Linked DNA regions of Homo sapiens: region 1 is linked to region 2. The links come from fine-mapping of genetic effects on plasma protein levels. A gene starts in region 2. The other region holds a variant in brackets. All regions are shown on one strand. Distances are between the middles of the regions. Region 1 overlaps STXBP2 (syntaxin binding protein 2). Region 2 holds the start of RETN (resistin).

What was found. PIP is the posterior inclusion probability: the model's chance that the variant is causal. Protein levels are from antibody-based Olink assays in UK Biobank. Linkage for the fine-mapping came from a reference panel and not from the study's own genotypes, which makes the PIPs less certain.
Region 1: its variant is fine-mapped to the plasma level of the RETN protein (UK Biobank, PIP above 0.99).

Annotation. Positions count from the first base shown.
Region 1 is chr19:7,646,525-7,654,499 of GRCh38, reverse strand. STXBP2 (syntaxin binding protein 2) reads right to left here. Exons shown (of 19, transcript NM_006949.4): 17 at 7,253-7,338; 18 at 6,989-7,146; 19 at 6,627-6,775. The coding sequence ends at 6,690. Among named protein-coding and RNA genes, the nearest start is that of STXBP2, 13 kb to the right of the region's middle. RefSeq lists an enhancer at 5,519-5,568. The variant C/T (reference allele first, on the strand shown) is at 4,375.
Region 2 is chr19:7,660,464-7,674,731 of GRCh38, reverse strand. It overlaps RETN (resistin), which reads right to left and starts at 5,683. Exons shown (of 4, transcript NM_020415.4): 1 at 5,611-5,683; 2 at 5,288-5,415; 3 at 4,834-4,911; 4 at 4,277-4,513. The coding sequence starts at 5,405. The coding sequence ends at 4,383. It also overlaps the pseudogene RPS27AP19.

The DNA of each region.
Region 1 (7,975 bases), 17 kb after region 2:
CAGCTAATTCCAGTAGCAGGAATGATAAAGTTGGACATAATCCTCAAGAGAGTAATGAATCAAAAATGGATGGCGGGCCAGGCACGGTGGCTGATGCCTGTAATCCCAGCACTTTAGGAGGATGAGGCAGGTGAATCATTTGAGGTCAGGAGTTCAAGACCAGCTTGGCCACCATGGTGAGACCCCGTCTCTACTAAAAATACAAAAATTAGCCTGGCATGGTGGCTCATGCTTGTAGTCCCAGCTTCTTGGGAGGCTGAGGCAGGAGAATTGATTGAACCCTGGAGGTGGAGATTGCAGTGAGCCAAGATTGCATCACTGCACTCCAGCCTGGGCAACAAGAGCGAAACTCTATCTCAAAAACAAACAAACAAACAATAACAACAACAAAATTGATGGCTGCTAATGACTTTTTTTCTTTTCTTTCCTTTTTTATTTTTATTTTTTATGAGACAGGGTCTCACTCTATCGCCCAAACTGGAGTGCAGTGCCGAGATCATAACTCAGTGCAGCCTCAACCTCTTGGACTCAAGTGATCTTCCCACCTCAGCCTCCCATGTAGCTGGGACTACAAGCAATTGCTGCCACATCTGGCTAATTATTTTATTTTGTTGTATTTTATTTATTTATTTTTTGAGACAGAGTCTTACTCTGTCACCCAGGCTGGAGTGCAATGGCATGATCTCAGCTCACTGCAACCTCCGCCTCCTGGATTCAAGTTATTCTCCTACCTCAGCTTCCTGAGTAGCTGGGATAACAGGTGTGCACCACCACGCCTGGTTAATTTTTGGTTTTTTGGTAGAGACGGGGTTTCATCATGTTGGCCAGGCTGGTCTTGAACTCCTGACCTCAAGTGATCCGCCCATCTCAGCCTCCCAAAGTGCTGGGATTACAGGTATGAGCCACCGTGCCCGGTCTTTATTTTATTTTTAGTAGAGACAGGGTTTTGCTATGTTGCCCAGGCTGGTCTCAAACTCCTGGGCCTAAGTGATCCTCCTGCCTTGGCCTCCCAAAGTGCTGGGAACTACAGGCGTGAGCCACTGGGCCCAGCTCCTGTTAACATCTTTATGTGGAGAGTTACTGGGGACCAGGGACATTCCCCAAACCCACCCATCAATCGTAGTGACATGACGTTATGGACCCCCTGATGTGATGTACCAGGAAGTACCCGGCCCTACCAGCATGATATTATTCTGGCTGCAACTGACCCTTATTCCAATAGAGCATGTGGTTCTAAGCCATTTATAGGGTAAACATTGGGGCAGGGATGGGGAGAGAGGAAGCAACCTGCCAAATCCAGAATGAGGATCATTCCTCGGTACCAGAAGAGAACCAGAAAGAAAGCACCCTAAGTGGGGATACCACAAGGAAGTAAAGCAGGGGCCTCTCCCAGCTGGGGAAGGGAAGGAGGAAGGAGTACAATAGCTTGCAAGGCACAGCATTGCGGATGATGGGAATAGCAGGTGCAAAGGTTCTGGGGCAGGGACAGTGTGGTGTGTTTGAAGAACAGCAGCCAGGTTCACCATGAGATGGGAAATGGACTTGGGGGAAGGGATCTCAAAGGATAATTTTTTTTTTTTTTTTGAGACAGGGTTTCGCTCTTGTTGCCCAGGCTGGAGTGCAGTGGCATGATGGCTCACTGCAACCTCTGCCTTCCGGTTTCAAGCGATTCTCCTGCCTCAGCCTCCCGAGTAGCTGGGATTACAGGCGCCCACCACCACGCCCGGCTAATTTTTGTATTTTTAGTAGAGACAGGGTTTCACCATGTTGGCTAGACTGGTCTTGAACTCCTGACCTCGTGATCCGCCCGCCTCGGCCTCCCAAAGTGCTGGGATTACAGACGTGAGCCACCGCGCCCGGCCCCCCAACTTTTTTTTTGTTTTTAACACAACTTCTCGCTTTCTCACCCAGGCTGGAGGGCAGAGGCACAATCATAGCTCACTGCAGCCTCGAACTCCTAGGCTCCAGCGATCCTCACAGGAGGGTTTTGAGGATCTGCATAAAGCGTGCAGAGGGAGCTTGACTTCGTGCTCGTTAGGACCCGATATTGTCAGCTGCCGCCGCCCACAGGGACACATAAATATTTGTAGACTCAATATTTGCCTTTAGTGTGAAGACATTGCATCACCTGGGTATAAGTAAGGAGCAGAGGCAGAGGCGGTTTAAGCAACAGACTTTTGTCTCCGCTGAGAACCACGGAATAACCCCTGACCTACTTCCCCGTCGTGTCTAATTCGGGTCACCTCATCTCCAGTTACAGACGCGGAAGATCAAAGAAACCGGGAAATTGCGCCGCAGCGCCCCCTGGCGTTCGCAGCGCGTGCCTACACAAGCCACTCCCGGCGCAAAACTGCGGCTTCCCAGGAAATTGAGTTTAAATGTTTTTTTTTCTTTTTTCTTAATCTAGAAAAGATCATTTATTGTATCAAGTAACTACCCAGTTAGGCGTGAATACATTTTAAAATTTTTATTAAAACGAGTATTGGCCGGGCGCGGTGGCTCACTCCTGTAATCCCAGCACTTTGGGAGGCCAAGGCAGGTGGATCACGGCGTCAGGAGTTCGAGACCATCCCGGCCAACATGGTGAAACCCCGTCTCTACTAAAAATACAAAAATTAGCTGGGCGTGGTGGCACGCACCTGTAGTCCCAGCTACTCGGGAGGCTGAGACAGAAGAATCGGTTGAACCGGGGAGGCGGAGGTTGCAGTGAGCTGAGATCATGCCACTGCACTCCAGCCTGGGCGACGGAGCGAGACTCCATCTCCAAAAAATAAATAAATAAATAAATATAATATAATATAAAATAAAATAAAAAGAGTATTGTAGAGATTGGCTGGGCACAGTGGCTCACACCTCTAATTCCTGCATTTTGGGAGGCTGAGGTGGGAGGTCTTCAGCCCAGGAGTTAGAGACCAGCCTGGCCAACATGGCAAAACCCCATCTCTACTAAAAGTACAAAAATTCGCTGGGCATGGTGTCGCACGTCTGTGATCCCAGCTTTTTGGGAGGCTGAGGCAGGAGAATCGCTTGAACCCAGGAGGCAGAGGTTACAGTGAATCGAGATCGCACCACTGCACTCCAGCCTGGGCAACAGAGTGAGACCTTGTCTCAAAAATACATATATTTAGGAATTTGCTATGTTGCCCAGGCTGGCCTCAAACTCCTGGCCTCAAGCAATCCTCCCACCTCGCCCTCCCAAAGTGCTGGGATTGCAGGCGTGAGCCACTGTGCCCGACCTTGAGCTTAAGTTTTAAACATTAAAACCACCTCCCTCCCACTCCCTGCACCTCCCGTAAGTTAAAACGCGTCCCTGCTGAGGCCCTGCAAAGGCATATCCAGGGCAGGCGGACCCCAGGGGTCCACAGCCGACCCACTTTCTTCCCCACACCTCATCCCCTTCACAACTCTCCTCATCCATCTCCCTGCCCTGGTGGGAGATTCCGATAAATCCTAATTGTGGAACTGCTGAATCAGAGGGGGCTGCATTTTCCTTAGCCCCCACCTGCAAATTGTGTGTGCAGTTTTTCTGGGATGAGTGTCCTTAGATTTCCCTGAATTCTCAAAAGGATCTGTGACCTCAAAATCAGGAGAGAGGCCGGGCACGGTGGCTCACGCCTGTCATCCCAGTACTTTGGGAGGCCGAGGTGGGCAGATCGCTTGAGCCCAGGAGACCAGCCTGGGCAACATAGCCAGACCCAGTCTCTACAAAAAATTAAAAGATTAACTGGGCTTGGTGATGTGCACTCATGGTCCCAGCTACTCAGGAGGCTGAGGTGGGAGGATCGCTTGAGCACAGGCGGTAAGAGAGGCTCTACCTCTGAAGAGGATGCTTCCCCACCCTCTGCCCCCTCCCCAGGCACCCACTCCAGCAGTGAGAATTTCACTGCCAACATGAGACATGGGTCCCTACCTGTCCCAACTCAGACCCTGTCTATGATGTCCTATGGCCTCAGCAGGGACCAAAACCCTCACCATGGCCTCACCAGAACCTCCACGTGGTTCTCAGATTGGGTTGCAGGTCAGTACCCTCCCCTCCAGCTCCTCAGGGGCCTCCTGCATTCTCTGGCCTTGGCTTCTGCTCTGCCCTCCCCTCCCTTCCCTTCGCCCCCTTCATTTTCATTCTCTATGCAAATGCTGCCTCCTCTAGGAAGCCTTCCCTGATTGCCCCCAGTCTGGGTGGATTAGATGTGATATGGGCTCCCACAGCCCCTTTTGCCTCAGATTACTCATGTGGCTGGCTGTATATCTGTGCCCCAGAGAGGTTTCTTTTCCTTTTTCTTTTTTTTTTTTTTTTTTGAGATAGGGTGTCACCTTGCCACCCAGGCTGGAGTGCAGTGGCATGATCATAGCTCATTGCAGTCTCAACCTCCCGGG[C/T]TCAAGCAATCCTTCCACCTGAAAGTCCTGAGCAGCTGGGACTACAGGCGTGTGCCATCACGTGCCTGACTAATTTTTCTTATTTTTTGTAGAGATGGGGTCTTGCTATGTTGCCCAGGCTGGTCTTAAACTCCTAGCCTCAAGCGATCTCCCACCTCAGTCTCCTGAGTAAACTGGACCCCAGGTGCAAGACACCATGCCCATAAAAAAATTTTAAAAAAATTTAATTTTAAAATTTTTTTGTAGAGATAGGATCGTGTTATGCCGCCCAGGCTGGTCTCAAACTCCTGGGCCCAAGCGATCCTCCCACCTAGGCCTCCCAAAGCACTGGGATTACAGGTGTAAGCTACCTCGCCCGGCCTCTCCTGTTCTATTGGTGCTGTGAGATTCACACCTCACTTGAGTGCTATGGGCTGAACTGTGTCCTCTCCACAAATGTCTATGCTGAAGTCCTGCCCCGCAACTGCCTCAGAAAGTGACTATACTTGGAGATAGAATCTTTAAAGAAATAATTAAGTAAAAATGAGGTCATATGCGTGGGCCCTAATCCAACATGACCAGTTTCCTTGTAAGAAGAGCAGATTAGGACACAGACATGCACTGGGGCGGGGGGAGGAGACTGTGTGAACACACAGGGAAAACACAGCTGTCTACAAGGAAAGGAGAGAAGCTTCAGAAGGAGTCACACCTGTGGACATCTTCATCTTGGACTTCCAGTCTCTAGAAACAGAAGACTATAAATGTGTTTGCTTTGAGACAGAGTCTTGCTCTGTTGCCCAGGCTGGAGTGCAACGGTGCGATCTCAGCTCACTACAACCTCCGCCTCCCGAAGGAGGCGTAGTGTAATTCTCCTGCCTCAGCCTCCCAAGTAGCTGGTACCACAGGTGTCCACCACCACACCTGGCTAATTTTTGTATTTTTAGTAGAGACAAGGTTTCACCATGTTGGCCAGGCTTGTCTTGAACTCCTGACCTCAGGTGATCCACCTGCCTCAGCCTCTCAAAGTGCTGGGATTATAGTTTTGTTTTTGAGATGGAGGTCTCGCTTTTGTCACCCAAGGCTGGAGTGCACTGGCACGGTCTTGGCTCACTGCAACCTCTGCCTCCCAGGCTCAAATGATCCTCCCACCTCAGCCTCCTGAGTAGCTGGGACCACGGTGCACACCACTACATTCAGCTAATTCTATTTTTTTGTAGACACAGGATCTCACTATGTTGCCCAGGCTAGTCTTGAACTCCTGGCCTCAAGTGATCAACCTGCCTTGGCCTCCCAATGTGCGACTACAGGCATGAGCCACGGTGCCTGGCAATTTCTGTTAAGTCACCTAGTCTGTGGTACTTTGTTATGACAGCCCTAGCAAACAGATACACCCACCGAAGGCCCTGATAAGTCCTGCAGTCAGGAGTCTCTGTGAACCCCGTGGGGCTGGGAGGAGAAAGCAGGGAGCGTTTGCTGTGTGCCTCACATGAATACAGCAGAAGCTGAACACAACTCCTGGCATCGTATGCCTACAGGTCCCCTTGGAACAGTTCTAGGGGGGTTGGAGTTCCAGGGTCCATTCTGCTTAATAACAATATTAACGGAGCAGCCAAAATGGTTCCAGTGAAAATGGGGTAGCAGCAGCTGTCATGCTTGCACGCCACCAGCCTTCCTGCGCTATCTCTGTTCTCTCCTCTGCAAAGCAGCTGCTATTTTGGGCTCCCTGTTTTTAGATTGGGAACCCCGGAAGTTGGTCAGGGCCTCACCGCTAGAATATCTTAGAGCTGATATTCAAATGAGAGTCCAATTTTTTTTTTTTTGAGACGGAGTCTCGCTTTGTTGCCCAGGTTGGAGTGCAAAGGGGCAATCTCGGCTCACTGCAGCCTCCACATCCTGGGTTCAAGTGATTCTCCTGCCTCAGCCTCCCAAGTAGCTGGGACTACAGGTGCACACCACCACACCCAGCTAGTTGTTTTGTATTTCTAGTAGAGATGGGTTTTCACCATGTTGGCCAGGCTGGTCTTGAAGTCCTGACCTCAAGTGATCCTCCCGCCTTGGCCTCCCAAAGTGCTGGGATTACAGGCGTGAGCCACCGTGCCCTGCCAAAAGTCCAAGTTCTTAACCTCCATGAGGGCTTGAGATGCCCTCAGGGGCAGGGAGAGGCTAATTCTCCTTCTGAGAGGATAATAGGGGTTGGTGGGGCCTGGGGCACAGGCCTGGCTCAGCACAACTCCCAGGGACTCCCTTGATAAGAAGGTGAGGTAGGCACTGGCTGGCAGAGCGACGGGAAGAGTTTATTTCTCTGGAAAGGGAGGGGTAGGGGGCGGGGCCAGGGGTCAGGGCAGGGCAATGTCCTCCAGCTTCTTGTCCAGTGCCTTCAGGTCATCCAGGAAGCGGGTCGGGGTGAGGATGTGTGAGGAGCCTGTGCAGGGGCAGAGGTTTGGGGAAGATGTTGGGGGGCGCTGCCTTCGTCTTTGACAGGCTCCCGGTCCCGGCTGGTGTGGGGCTGTCCCTGTCCCTCAGCAAACCAGGTCCCTGACTCCAAGGACTCTGGAGTCCAGACACCTAGAAGGTACAAGCCCAGGCCCCGGGAACCCAAGCCCCAGACCCCAGGGTCCCAGTCCTGGTGACTTACCAATGAGCACCTCCCACTTGCCCTCGGTGGCCCTGGTCACCTCGTAGGCGGCCCTCATCTCTGACATGGCCACACCGCCCATGACATACACGATGAGCCGGGGGCCCGCCCGGGCTTCTATGCCAGCCTTGTTCTTGTGCCAGTGACCGAAGCGGGCACTGTGCAGGGCAGGGGCAGAAAGTCCAGGCAGGAGGCCCTCACCGCCGCCAGGCCGCCCACCTAACACAGACCCAGGCGTGGGCGGGGGCGGCCCCGGGGCCTCACCTGACAGCGGCCTGGGAGCTGGCCGTGGGGGCGGGGTCGGATACGAAGGGCCACAGGTTCCTGTCCAGCCGGTCCTCCACGGCGTCCTGGCGGCCGAGAGGCAGGTTAGGGGAGGAACCCCAGGCATGGGGTCCGGGGTCAGGAGTGCCCCCCACGGGGTATTCAGGGGCCAAGATCCTGGCAGACAGGAACCAGCATCTCCACCTCCTGCCTCTGGGGGACCCAGGAGTCTAGGCCTCTAGTCCATTGGGGACCTAGAAATCTAGATCCATAACTCACTGGGGACCCACGAATCTAATTCCATAACTCCTTGGGTACCCAGAAGTCTAAACCCACAGTTCCTCGGCAACCCAGTAGTCTGGGCCTCCAGGCCCTTGGGGACCATCAGTCAATACCCCCAGCCCTTTGGGGAACCCAGTGTCTGGGCTCTCAGCCCCTCAGAGCCCCAGAAGTCCAGGTATTCAAGGTCCATGGGGATGAGGAGGCCCAGGTCTCTGGCCCCCACGCAGAAAGAGGGGCCGGGGCTCTTAGAGGGACAAGGAGGAAGCCAGGAAGCCGCCCCAGGCCCATTGCCATTGGATGGTGCTGCCCTGGGATCCTGGGAAGGCCAGGGCTGGGGCTCAGGGGCACTCCTGCGGGACAGGGGAACAGACTAGAGAGATATAGCGGAGGCAGCCGGCAGGTGGGGAGGAAGTGAGGCTCCCCAGCACAGGCCCCGCTGTC
Region 2 (14,268 bases):
TTGAATGTTGAGAAATGAGCGTCGAGATCTGGTGAGGATAAAGTTCTGTTTCCTAAAATATTGCCAAATCCTGTGTCTCCAAGAAAGATCAATTTGATAATGACTTCATGCCAGCTGCTCCATTTGGTCTTAGAAAGAAGTCAGTTACTGAGCTATAGGACCGCCTTCTAATGGAGCAGACGGACCAATTGGATGTGGGCTCTGCCTTGATGGACAGGCACAGGGGGTGGAGCCACAGCGTTGCACATTTCCCGGGCTTGGGTGGGGCTGAGACGCGGCTCCAGGCTCTGGACTTCCTTTGAGAAAAAGGTCACGCTAAACCAGAGGCCCACAAGCAATCATGTCATGTGGGAAACATCTGCAAAGCTGCCTGACCAGCACCCGTCCCTTTCATAGGGTAACATTCTCAATTTTCTTTTAAGAAAGAAAATGTGTGCTAGATCCAGCAAACCATAAGCTAGGGATTGGTTTACAGTGGACAAATGATCCAGACCCAGCCAACCAGAGTCTAAGATTGGGCAGAGAGGCGGGCATTTGAGCAAGATCCAGCCAATGAAACGCTGGTCTGGGATTTTTATTGGTTTAACCACGGGGGAAAAAGCATTCTCTTTTTTTTCCAGCCCTCACTAGGGCTGCCACAATGGGAGGATGTAATGGGAGCTGTGACAGGGAAGAATTTACTTGAGAGCAAAGGCAGTGCTGAGAAAATCAGACCCGAGAGGAAGTCTGGGTCCTGGAGACATCATTTGAGACCCTGGTTCCAAGCCATACCTGAACCTGTTGTTCTAACCCTGGGCTTGTCAGTTACACAAACAAGAAACTTCCTTTTAGTTTTGCCCAAGCTAGTTTGAAGTGGGGTCTGTTGTACTTGCAAGCAGAAGAATCTTGCCTTGGCTGGTCTCTGTGGCCCACGCCTGTAATCCCAGCACTTTGGAAGGCCGAGGCAGGTGAATCACTTAAGGTCAGGAATTTGAGACCAGCCTGGCCAAAATGGCGAAATCCCCGTGTCTACTAAAAATACAAAAATTAGCCAGGAGTGGTGGTGGGCGCCTGCAATCCCAACTACTCAGGAGGCTGAAGCAGGAGAATCACTTGAACCTGGAGGTGGAGGTTGCAGTGAGCTGAGATCGTGCCACTGCACTCCAGCCTGGACAACAGAGTGAGACTCCATCTCAAAAAGGAAGAAGAAGAAGGAGGAGGAGGAGAAGGATGAGGAGGAGGAAGGAGGGAGGGAGGAGGGAGGAGGGAGGAGGATATCTTGCCTACCACAGGGGATCTAGGCATTAGCTATTGAGGAAATTGAGGCTCTAATAGGGGGTTTGCCTGTCCACATCACCTGGGCAGATATGACCTCCAAGTCTGCACTCTGGGGCAGGAGAATGTCTATGTTGGAATTGAGGAACCTGAAGAGAGCCCTCTTAGGTTTCAGATACAGGACTATTGGATGGGGGTGGAGACAAATAGTTCTGGGGACAATGGAGCATCCCCGCCCCCAACACACACACACAGCAGTAAGGGGCAGGGACACACACAAGGCACTAGACTCACCCTCTCTGGCCCTGGCCATGCTTCTAACTCAGTGGTCCTGCCCTACCCCCATGACCACTGTGGAGTCAGGAGAGAGGGTCTGGGAAGGGAATCCCTGGGCTGGAGTCTGGGTGGGGTCCCTGGCACCAGAAGTGGTTGTAATCTCTGCTCATGGCCACCAGCATCAGACAGGGGGCTGGGACCATCACAGGGGGTGGGTGGCAGTGGGAGGAGAGTCCAAAACATCCTGCAAACCAGAACCTCACTCTATCATCTGTTGTCCAGGTGTGACATTTGAGTCTGGGATCCCTTTCAAGACTAGGTGCTAGGAATTCTGAAGTCTGTGGTGGGAAATCAGGGACTGGATGGCAAGACTCCTGGGTCAGGCTTCCTGTAGAACTGGACCCCGAATCACCTGAATTTGTGCCCCAGGGAGCTGAGGCGGGGGATGCTGAGGCTTTTGCCCACTAGAACAGGGGTCCCCAGCCACCGGGCATTGGGAACGGGGCCTCACAGCAGGAGGTGAGTGGTGGGCGAGCGAGAGAAGCTTCATCTGTATTTACAGCCACTCCCCATCATTCGCATTACCACCTGAGCTCCACCTCCTGTCAGACCAGCAGCAGCATTAGATTCTCATAGGAGCAAGAATCCCATCGTGAACTGCGCATTTGAGGGATGTAGCTTTCTCACTTCTTATAAGAATCAAATGCCTGGTAATCTGTCGCTGTCTCCCATCACCCTCAGCTGGGACCATCTAGTTGCAGGAACACAAGCTCAGGGCTCCCACCGATTCCACATTATGGTGAGTTGTAGAATTATTTTATTCTATATTACAATGTCATAATAATAAAAATAAAGTGAATAATAAATGTAATGCGCTTGAATCACCCAGAAACCATCCCCGCTCCCCCCCTACCCCATACACACACCAACTGTCTTCCATGAAAACAGTCTCTGGTGCCAAAAAGGTTGGGGATCGCTGCACTAGGGTATCAGATACTTATCCAGGTGCAGTGGGGACTAGAGTCAGAAATGCAAGAGTCTGCCTGGAGCATGTGTGTGTTTGTGTCCTGCATCATCTCTGCCCACCATAGTCAAATCTGCGATTCTCCGTGCATTGGCCGGGGGGGTGGTGCCTTTCTGTGTCCAAGAGTGTCTAGGGGCACATGGGTGTGTCTGTGGATGTGGTGTCTCCATGTGGCCGTGGTAGGTGGGTTGTGTACTCTGTGTGTGCACGTGGCTGTGTATAGCTGTGTGTGCATGTGCAGTATGTGCACGTCGGTGCTGTATCTAAGTGCACATGTGGCTACTGATCAACAGACATTTACTGAACGTCTACTGTGTTCCATGCTCTATTCTAAACCCTGGGGGCGCTGGGTGCAGTGGCTCATGCCTGTAATCCCAGCACTTTGGAAGGCCGAGGTGGGTGGATCACCTGAGGTCAGGAGTTTGAGACTAGCCTGGCCAACATGGTGAAACCCGCTCTCTACTAAAAATACAAATTAGCTGGGCATGGTGGTGGGCACCTGTAATCTCAGCTACTTGAGAGGCTAAGGCAGGAATATCACTTGAACCCAGGAGGCAGAGGTTGCAGTGAGCCGAGATTGTGCCACTGCACTCCAGCCTGGGCGCCAGAGTAAGACCTTGTCTCGAAAATAAAAATTAAAAAATAGGCCAGGCGCGGTGGCTCATGCATGTAATCCCAGCACTTTGGGAGGCTGAGGCGGGTGAATCGCTTGAGGCCAGGAGCTCAAGACCAACCTAGCCAACATGGTGAAACTCCTTCTCTACTAAAAATACAAAAATTAGCCAGGTATGGTGGCGAGCGCCTGTAGTCCCAGCTACGTGGGAGGCTGAGGCAGGAGAATCGCTTGAACCCAGGAGGCAGAGGTTGCGGTGAGCCGAGATTGCACCACTGCACTCCAGCCTGGGCAACAGAGCGAGACCCTGTCTCAAAAAAAAAAAAAGAAAGAAAGAAAGAAAAGAGAAGAGGGGAGAGGAGGGGAGGGGAGGGGAGGGGAGGGGAGGGGAGGGGAAGGGAAGGGAAGAAACGAAACCCTGGGGGGGATCTAGGAGCAGACAAGTCCCCTGCTCTGTGTTTTCATAATCTAGTATCCAGGAAGGGGTAAGCACCCTGCGTGTATCTGGTTGTAACTAACTACTCACAACTGCACTTGCCTGTGTGAAAACGTGAGCTTGTGATGATGCGTGACGTCAGGTAGGCGTCCCTGACTCTCCGTAACCCAACTTTGCCTGTGCCTTGGGGATTCCTCCTTGCAGGTAGGAAGTGAGGGGTACAGGTTCCAGCTCTGGGCTGAGACATGATTCAGGGTTCCACCCTGACCTGGGGCTCCTGGAGTCTTGGGGCCCTGGAGGGTCCCGTCCACTGCCCAGACTGACCCAGGTCCTCGATGAAGCCTCATTATGAGGACTGGGGGAAAAGGACCCAGCCACTTCCTGGGGAGGTCGGAGACCCCAGGGTGAGCGTCAAGGTAGCCTCAAAGATGAGACGTCACCTCTTGAAGGCAGCCATGAGCCTTGGGTGGGGACGTCACTAGAGGAAGTTCAGGCCCTATTTTCGGAGGAAGCAGTTGGAGACCCCATAGGAGGAAGGGCGATGGGGCAGTAGAAAGTCGCGGTGTCCCCGCCCCCTCCAGCAGCTACGCGCCCCACTCTCTTGGAGACGCTAGATCAGTCCCTCCGGGCCTACTAAAGAAACCACGCAGGGCTCAGATCCGCTCCATCATCATCATCATCATCATCATCATCATCTCCAGGTTTATTTCCAGCTCCCCCGCAACCCCTCCGGACCTGGAGCCGCCTCCGCCCGCGCTGTGCACGCGCTGCGCGCGACCTCAGGGCTGCACACGACAGCAGCGCGCTCCGGTCCAGTCCATGCCCGCGCACTGGCAGTGACATGTGGTCTCGGCGCGCACATCCCACGAGCCACAGGCGGAGCCACAAGTGCAGCCGGTGACGGCGAAGCCTGCAGCCCGGAACACAGGAGCGTGGACTCTGAGCTGGGAGGCTGAGGGTGGGAGCGGGAGGGGGGTGGGGAGCGCGGAGGGGGGTTGGGGGGGCGGGGGTGGGGACGGGGACGGCTGGAGGCTCCAACCACTGAATGGGCACTGGAGGCAGGGAGTGAGGGTGGACACCAGTGTCCAGATGGTGGGCGGAGAAGGCTGGGAGTCAGGACCAAGATCCTAGGGGAGTAGAGGCTGGACACGGGGAACGTGGCGGGGAGGGGGCATTCCCAGGGGACTTGGAACAGAAATGGGCGCCTGGACAACAGTCTCCTGCACTCACCTCGGGGGCAAGTAGCCAGGTCCCCCCTGGAGGTGACGCTCTGGCACTCCAGGCCAATGCTGCTTATTGCCCTAAATACTGGGGGGCAGGAGGAAAGGAGACAGGGGGAGCTGTGAGACCAAACGGTCCCTCCCCCATCCTCCCCTAGCCCTGTTGGTTTGGAGCTAGGTCCCTGTGGGCATAGGAGCTCACTGGCCTCCAGGACCCTGTCTTGAGTTGGGTGTTTTGGAGTAAGGGAAGGTTTGGAGTGAGAGCGGGGATTGGGTTTGGAGCCGTGGATAAGGTGGGGACAGTCGGAGGGGTTGGGAGTGGAGTTGGGGTTGAATTTATGATCTGGTTGGATTTGAGGATGAGATTTGGTGAGCGCTGGGGCTGGGTTGGAGTCAGGTCTGTGCCAGGGATCAGTGAGGTCTCTGAGACCCTTGGGGAGCTTGCCCAAGTGGGGGGTCCTCACTTAGGGAGCCGGCGACCTCCTGGATCCTCTCATTGATGGCTTCTTCCATGGAGCACAGGGTCTTGCTAGACACCAACAGCCCCAGGACAGGGAGGAGGAGGAGACAGAGAGCTTTCATCCTGCAGGCGCTGAAAGAGGGAACCAAGAGACCCACAGCTGGATCAGCCCTGCCCTGTGGGGAAGATCCGGCCCATGGAGGGAGTAGGATCTGCCCCTGGACCTGGACCCCTGTCCCCCCATGTGGGGGACAGGGATGGAGGCTCAGCCTTGACCCCAGCCTCCCCGCTGGTGCCATGGCAAGCGCAGGAGCAGCTGTCACTTACCCTCTCGGTGGGCTCAGCTAACCAAATCCGGCACACGAATTCCTGCACCGCAGCTCTTTCTTTGAGGCCTCTTGGGGTGGGGCTTCCTGGCTTGGCTAATAAGTCCCTGGGCCCCCAACCCTCCGGTCCCACATCCGGGGCCAAGAGGAAGCCCCTGAGCAGACAGTAAGGGCTGGAGGAGGAAGGGAGCCTTCCCACTTCCAACAGGGCCTCCGTCTTCATGTCCAGAGACTGGTCAGGAGGTGGTGCCCCAGGGATAATGCCAGGGGCTGTGGTCTGAGGAACAGGTAGACAAGCAGAGTTTTGCATGCAAGGGTGGCTGATGCAAACATGACAAAATTAATGCCTCTTGCTAGGCATGGTGCGGACAAGCACTTGTAGTCCCAGCTACTAAGGAGGCTGACGTGAGAGAATTGCTTGAGCCCGGGAGTTCGAAGCTACAGTGACTTATGATCACAGCACTGCACTCCAGTCTGGGCAACAGAGCAAGACCACTTCTCTAAAATAGTAATAATAATTATGTCTCTGGGTGAGAATGACATACCACATTCATACCCAAATGCCCATGAGCAATAGAACTGGTAAATAAAATCATGGTTTATGGCCGGTGGCTCACGCCTGTAATCCCAGCACTTTGGGAGGCCAAGGCGGGCGGATCACTTGAGGTCAGGAGCTTGAGACCAACCTGGCCAACATGATGAAACCCTGTCTCCATTAGACATACAAAAATTAACTGGGCGTGGTGGCGTGTGCCTGTAATCCCAGCTACTTGGGAGGCTGAGGTGGGAGAATCACTTGAACCCGGGATGTGGAGGTTGCAGTGCACTGAGATCGTGCCCCTGCACTCCATCCTGGATGACTAGCTTGGGCACCATAGCAAGACTCCATCTCAAAAAGAAGAAAGAAAAATCATGGTTTATTCCATCAATGGCATCACCTGCAACAGAAGTTGGAAAGCCATTGCTCATGGGCCAAGGTCCAGCTCATGTTTCTTCTTGGACCACCCATGAGCTTGGAATGGTTATTACATTTTTATTTGTTCTTTGTTTCCAGTACAACGGGCCTTTTTGTGGTAAAATACATATAACATACAACTTACCATTATAACTTACTTTTTTCTTTTTTGAGACGGAATCTTGCTCTGTCGCCCAGGCTGGAGTGCAGTGGCGCGATCTCGGCTCACTACAAGCTCCGCCTCCTGGGTTCACGCCATTCTCCTGCTTCAGCCTCCCAAGTAGCTGGGACTACAGGCGCCTGCCACCACGCCCAGCTAATTTTTTGTATTTTTTTTTTTTTAGTAGAGATGGAGTTTCACCGTGTTAGCCAGGATGGTCTCGATCCCCTGACCTTGTGATCTGCCCGCCTTGGCCTCCCAAAGTGCTGGGATTACAGGCGTGAACCACCGTGCCCGGCCTTTTTTTTTTTTTTTTTGAGACGGGGTCTTGCTATGTTGCCCAAGCTAGTGTCAGACTCCTGGCTTCAAGTAATCCTCCCACCTTGGACTCCCCAGTAGCTGAAGCTACAGGTATGCACCATCTTGTTCCATTTTAACCATTGCTTTTGTTTGTTTCTTTGTTTCAGAGTCTCACTCAGTTGCTCAGGCTGGAGTACAGTGGCTCAATCTTGGCTCACTGCAACCTCCACCTCCTGGGTTCAAGCAATTCTCCTGCCTCAGCCTCCCGAGTAGCTGGGATTACAGGCGTGCACCACCATGCCCGGCTAATTTTTTGTATTTTTAGTAGAGATGGGGTTTCACCATGTTGGCCAGGCTGGTCTCAAATTCCTGACCTCAAGTGATCCACCCGCCTCAGCCTCCCAAAGTGCCGGGATTACAGGTGTGAGCCACCATGCCCAGCCTATTTTAACCATTTTTCAGAGCACAATTCTGTGGCAATAAGCACATTCATGTTGTTATGTAGCCACCACTGCCGTCCATCTCCAGAACTTTCTCCTCTTTCCAAACTGAAACTCTGTCCCCATGAAACACTCACTCCCTATCCCTCTCCCCAGCCCCTGGCACCCTCCATCTTGCTTTCTGCCTCTATGGATCTGATGACTCTAGGGACCTCCTAGGAGTGGAATCACACAGTGTTTGTCCTTTTGTATCTGCTTATTTCACTGAGCATAATATCCCCAAGGTTCATCCCTGCTGTAGCCTGAGTCAGAACTGTTTTCCTTTCCATGGCTGTATCACATTCCCTTGTGTGGATGAACCACGTTGTGTTTATTCCTTCATCCATCGATGGACACTTGGGTTGCTTCCAGCTTTTGTTTTGTTTTTTTGTTTGTTTGTTTGTTTTTGTTAGTTCACGTCTTTTGTGGGTTTTCTTTCTTTTTTGAGATGGAGTCTCACTCTGTTGCCCTGGCTGGAGTGCAGTGGCACGATCTCGGCTCACTGCAAGCTCCGCCTCCCGGGTTCACTCCATTCTCCTGCCTCAGCCTCCCGAGTAGCTGGGACTATAGGCGCCCGCCACCATGCCCAGCTAATTTTTTTGTATTTTTAGTAGAGACGGGGTTTCACCATGTTAGCCAGGATGGTCTCGATCTCCTGACCTTGTGATCCGCCCGTCTCGGCCTCCCAAAGTGCTGGGATTACAGGTGTAAGCCACTGCGCCTGGCCGTCTTTTGTTAATTCATACAGTTATTTGTCTTCTGGTTTGTTGAAGCAGTAAGTCAGACAACATTTGCCACAATAATGTCTGTCAAAGTGGCTTGCCATAAACACTGCAGCACCACATTCATCAGAAGGGCAACCTCGACGAAGGTGACTAATTTTGCCATTCTCATCCACCTTATAATATTTCAGGACAGCCAGCTTCACCTTCTTTCTCTTGTGCTTATTCGTCTTGCAGGTAAGACTTCTTCTTCTGGCCGGGCTCAGTGGCTCAGGCCTGTAATCCCAGCACTTTGGGAGGCCGAGGCAGGTGGATCACGAGGTCAGGAGTTCAAGACCAGCCTGGCCAACATGGTGAAATCCTGTCTCTACTAAAAATACAAAAATTAGCTGGGCGTGGTGGCACGTGCCTGTAATCCCAGCTACTCGGGAGGCTGAGGCAGGAGAATTGCTTGAACTGGGACCCGGGAGGCAGAGGTTGCAGTGAGCCGAGATTGCACCACTGCACTCCAGCCTGAGCTACAGAGCGAGACTCCATCTCAAAAAAAATAAAAAAAAGACTTCTTCCTTTCCTTAGCACCACCACGAATTCTCAATACAAGATGAAGAGGAGACTCCTTTTGAATGTTGTAGTCAGACAGAGTACGCCCATCTTCCAGTGCTTGTCTTTGCTGATCAGGAGGAATTCTTTCTTTACCCTGGATCTTGGCCTTTACATTTTCTACCATATCTGAGGGTTCAGCCTCGAGGGTGGTGGTCTTCCCTGTAAGGGTTTTCAGGAAAATCTACATTTTGGTGGCGGCTCCACCACAGATGGCGGATCTAAAAGGTTTTTGTTTTTTGTTTTTTTGAGACAGAGTTTCGCTCTTGTCACCCAGGCTGGAGTGCAAGTGGCACGATCTTGGCTCACTGCAACCTCTGACTCCTGGGTTTAAGTGATTATCCTGCCTCGGCCTCCGAGTAGCCAGGATTACAGGCATGTGCCACCACCACACCTGGCTAATTTTTTTTTCTTTTGTATTTTTAGTAGAGATGGGGTTTTGCCATGTTGGCCAGGCTGGTCTCAAACTCCTGATCTGGAGTGATCCGCCTGCCTCGGCCTCCCAAAGTCCTGGGATTACAGGTGTGAGCCACTGTGCCTGGCCTGCTTCTGCCTTTTGGCTATTGTGAATAATGCTGCTCTGAACATAGATGTGCAAATATCTGTTTGCAGCTCCTGCTTTCAATTCTTCTGGGCGTATGTCCAGGAGTAGTGCTGCCTGATCATATGGTAATTCTATGTTTAACTTTTTGAGGCACTGCCAATTTTCACATTTTTAAACCATAGGGAAAAAAAAGTTGTTTTTTTTTTAAAAAAGACACAGTCTGGCTCTGTTTTCCACGCTGGAGTGCAATGGTGCAATCATAGCTCACTGCAGCCTCAAACTCCTGGGCTCAAGCAATCCCCCCCTCATCAGCCTCTTGAGTAGGTGGGACTACGGCATGTGTCACCACACCTAACTAATTTTTTTAATTTTTTTGTAGAGGTGGGGTCTCACTCTATTGCCCAGGCTGGTCTCAAACTCCTGGCCTCAAAAGATCCTGCCACCTTAGCTTCCCAAAGCACTGAGATTACAGGCATGAGCCACTGTGCCTAGCCAAAAAATATTTGTAATGTTTAGTGAAAATAGAAATCATATAAAATTCAAATTCATATAATTTTCATAAAAAGTCCATAAAGAAAATTTTCTTAAAACATTGTCAGCTGGGTGCGGTGGCTCATGCCTGTAATCACAGCACTTTGGGAGGCTAAGGCGGGTGGATCACCTGAGGTCAGGAGTTCAAGACCAGCCTGGCCAATGTGGTGAAACCCCATCACTACTTACAATACAAAATTAGCCGGGTGTGGTGGCACGCGACTGTAATCCCAGCTACTTGAGAGGCCGAGGCAGGAGAATTGCTTGAACCCGGGAGGTGGAGGTTGCAGTGAGTCAAGATGGTGCCCTTGCACTCCAGCCTGGGCAACAAGAGCGAAACTCTGTCTCAAAAAAAAAAAAAATTGCCAAGCTCAGTGGCAGGCACCTGTCATCCTAGCTACTTGAGAGACCAAAGCAGGAGGATTGTTTGAGCCCAGGAGTTTGAGGGCAGCCTGAGCAACATAGTGAGATCCTGTCCCTACAAACACACACACACAGTTTGCTACCCCCTTTTTTTTGAGAGGGAGACTCGCTCTTGTCACCCAGGCTGGAGTGCAGTGGCACGACCTTGGCTCACCGCAACCTCTGCCTCCCGGGTTAAAGCGATTCTCCTGCCTCAGCCTCCCGAGTAGCTGGGATTATAGGCAGGTGCGCCACCATGTCCGGCTAATTTTTGTATTTTTAGTAGAGATGGGATTTCGCCATGTTAGCCAGGCTGGCTTCGATCTCCTGATCTCAAGTGATCCGCCCGCCTTGGCCTCCCAGAGTGCTGAGACTATAGGCATGAGCCACTGCACCTGGCCCCATTTTTTAATATATCATCAGTGACTGCTATCACATGTCCATGGCAGAGCTCAGCAGCTGTAGAGTGGTTGGACAGTAGGGCCCCCAAAGCTGAGAATGTTTACTATCTGACTCGTTACAGAAAACATTTTTTTGTACCCCTGGTATGTGGTGATGAGTGAGAATGAGACAACTGTCCATGGATTACAGCTACACCCAACCATGTGGCTGATTCTCACGAACATATGTTAGCATAGAAGCCAGACCCCAAAAAGAACATACCATACAAATCCATTTATTAAAAAAAAAGGGGGCCGGGCGCGGTGGCTCCTGCCTGTAATCCCAGCACTTTGGGAGGCCAAGGCAGGCGGATCACAAGGTCAGGAGATCAAGACCATCCTGGCTAACACGGTGAAACCCCATCTCTACTAAAAATCCAAAAAAATTAGCCGGGCGTGGTGGCAGGCACCTGCAGTCCCAGCTCCTCGGGAGGCTGAGGCAGGAGAACGGTGTGAACCCGGGAGGCGGAGCTTGCAGTGAGCCGAGATGGCGCCACTGCACTCCAGCCTGGGCGACAGAGCAAGACTCCGTCTCAAAAAAAAAAAAAAATACCTAAAAATACAAAAATTAGCCAGGTGTAGCGGCAGGTGCCTGTAATCCCAGCTACTCGGGATGCTGAGGGAGGAGAATCGCTTGAACCAAGAGGTGGAGGTTGCAGTGAGCTGAAATCATGCTACTGCACTCCAGCCTGGGCAACAGAGAGAGACTCCGTCTCACAATAATGATAATAATAATAAATGAAATACAAACAAAACTAATTTATGCTGTCGGAAATGACGATGGAAGAGTCCTGGGGAATCAGAGATAGTGGTGATAAAAGCATACCAGGAAGGCCCCTAGTGAGGGGGGAATTTTGTAAAAGTTTTCAGCTGTAACTCTCATTTGCACAATTTTCTCTATGTATTTATATTTCAATCAACATGATGCATGTGTATTAAAGCCCTGTGTAAATGCAACGGTGCACACAGGTTCAAAGCGCAGGCAATATTTATTGAGCAACTATTATGTTCCATATGCTGTGTTAAACACCATGCATACACTAAGAAGCAGAGGGATGCTGCCCTTGCCCGGGACGAGTTGGCCCTTGTCAGTCAGGGAAAGGCAGACACCAACAGAACAGCAATAAAAAGGCCGGGCAATGGGCCAGGCGCGGTGGCTCATGCTTGTAATCCCAGCCTTTTGGGAGGCCGAGGCGGGTGGATCACCTGAGGTCGGGAGTTCGAGACCAGCGTGACCAACATGGAGAAACCCCTTTTCTACTAAAAACACAAAATTAGCCAGGCGTGGTGGCACACCAGGTGGGTAGCTGTAATCCTAGTTACTCGGGAGGCTGAGGCAGGAGAATTGCTTGAACCCGGGAGGCGGAGGTTGTGGTGAGCCAAGGTTGTGCCATTGCTTTCCAGCCTGGGCAACAAAAAGCAAAACTCCATCTCAAAAAAAAAAAAAAAAGTCCGGGCGCCATGGCTCACACCTGTAATCCCAGTGCTTTAGGAGACCGAGGTGGGTGGATCACTTGAGCCCAGGAGTTCAAGACCAGCCTGGCCAACACAGTGAGACCCTCCCTCTGTACAAAACGTAAGAAAACATTAGGCAGGGATGGTGGTGGCTTCCTGTAGTCCCAGCTACTCAGGAGGCTGAGACAGAAGTACCGCTTGAGTCCAGGAGTTGGAGACTGCAGTGAGCTATGATCGCACCACTGCACTCCAGCCTGGACAACAGAGCAAGACCCCATCTCTAAAAAAAAGAAAACAAAAAAACAACAACAAAAAACACCAATAGAATGCTCAATCAGCCATCAGCCTCAAGGACCCTTCCATCTCCCAAGGAGAGGAACCCTTTTCCGTGAGAACCTCTGACCTAAAAATCAACCCCACATGGGGGAATCCAGAAAGTATTTTGGGGGGAGGAAAAGATGTTTGAAGGGAGGGTGGAGGATGCAGAAGGGTTAACCAGGAGAGGCAGTTAGGGAGGGCCTTCTGGGTGGAGGGAGAGGACTGCATGTTCCAAGGACCTGAGGCAGAATGGAGTGTGTGTATTTAGAGGAACTGAAAGCAAATTTGTGGGACAGGGGATCTAGAGGGGAAAAGTGAATTCCACAGGCTCCCTGTCTCTTCTGGTCCTAGCAGGAACTTTCAAGTCCGTTTTTGTCCAGATATTTCCCCATGCTCAAGTCCCAGCTCATCCTGCCTCCTTGAAGACATGACTTCTGTCTCTTCTTGAGCTACTCTTTGACACACCCTGGACAAAGGGTAGCTTGAAAAGAGACAGAAACCATGTTATTGCCAGGTGCAGTGGCTCACGCCTGTCATCCTTGTGCTTTGGGAGGCTGAGGCAGGAGGATCGCTTGAGGCCAGGAGCTTGAGACCAGCCTGGACAACATAACAAGACCCCATCTCTACAAAGATAAAAGGGAAAAAGCCGGGCGCAGTGGTTCACGCCTGTAATCCCAGCACTTTGGGAGGCCAAGGTGGGCAGATCACCTGAGGTCAGGAGTTCGAGACCAGCCTGGCCAACATGGCGAAACCCCGTCTCTACTAAAAATACAAAAATTAGATGGGCGTGGTGGCGGGCACCTGTAATCCCAGCTACTCGGGAGGCTGAGGCAGGAAAATCACTTGAACCCAGGAGGTGGAGGTTGCAGTGAGCTGAGATTGCACCACTGCACTCCAGCCTGGGCGACAGAGTGAGCCTTGGTCTCAATCAATCAATCAATCAATCAATGGAAAAAAATTAGCTGGGTGTGGTGGTCCATGCTGGTAGTCCCAGCTACTGAGGAGGCTGGGGTGTGAGGATCACTTGAGCCCAGGAAGGCTGAGACTGCAATGAGCTATGATGGCATCACTGCACTCCAGCCTGGACAACAAAGCAAGATCCCGTCTCAAAAAAAAAGAAGAAAAAGAAAAATCATTTTTTGAGAGCTCTGATTTTCAAACCCTTTGTTCTCAGAACTCTTCGGGTAAAACCTTTTGAACGACACAAAAGGAGTGGGCAGCTGTGATGACAGATTGAGGAGAAAGCAGGGTAGGCATGGAACCTCTAGGGTTCCCTAGGGACCCAGTTTGAAAACTCTTGGTTCAGTAGCAGGAAAAGGCAATATGCCCCTTAATTCTCTTCTAAAACATAAAATCCTTTAACTTCCTCTGATTTCTACCAGTAAAACTGAGCTCTACTGACCTCAATTTTGTACCAAATGCTATCTAATAAAATCCCAGAAACAGTGATTTTTGAAAAATCCATTTTGTTGATGTGTAATTTACATACAGTAGAATGTGCCTATCTTATGTGTTTGGTTTCATGCATTGTTTTTCTTTTTCAACTTTTTAAATTTTTTTTTTTTTTTGAGACAGGGTCTCACTCTGTTGCCCAGGTTGGCGTGCAGTGGCACAATCTCGGCTCACTGCAACCTTCGCCTCTCGGGTTCAAGCAATTCTCCTGCCTCAGCCTCCTGAGTAGGTGGGACCACAGGCACGCGCCACTACACCCAGCTAATTTTTGTATTTTTAGTAGAGACAGGGTTTCTCCATG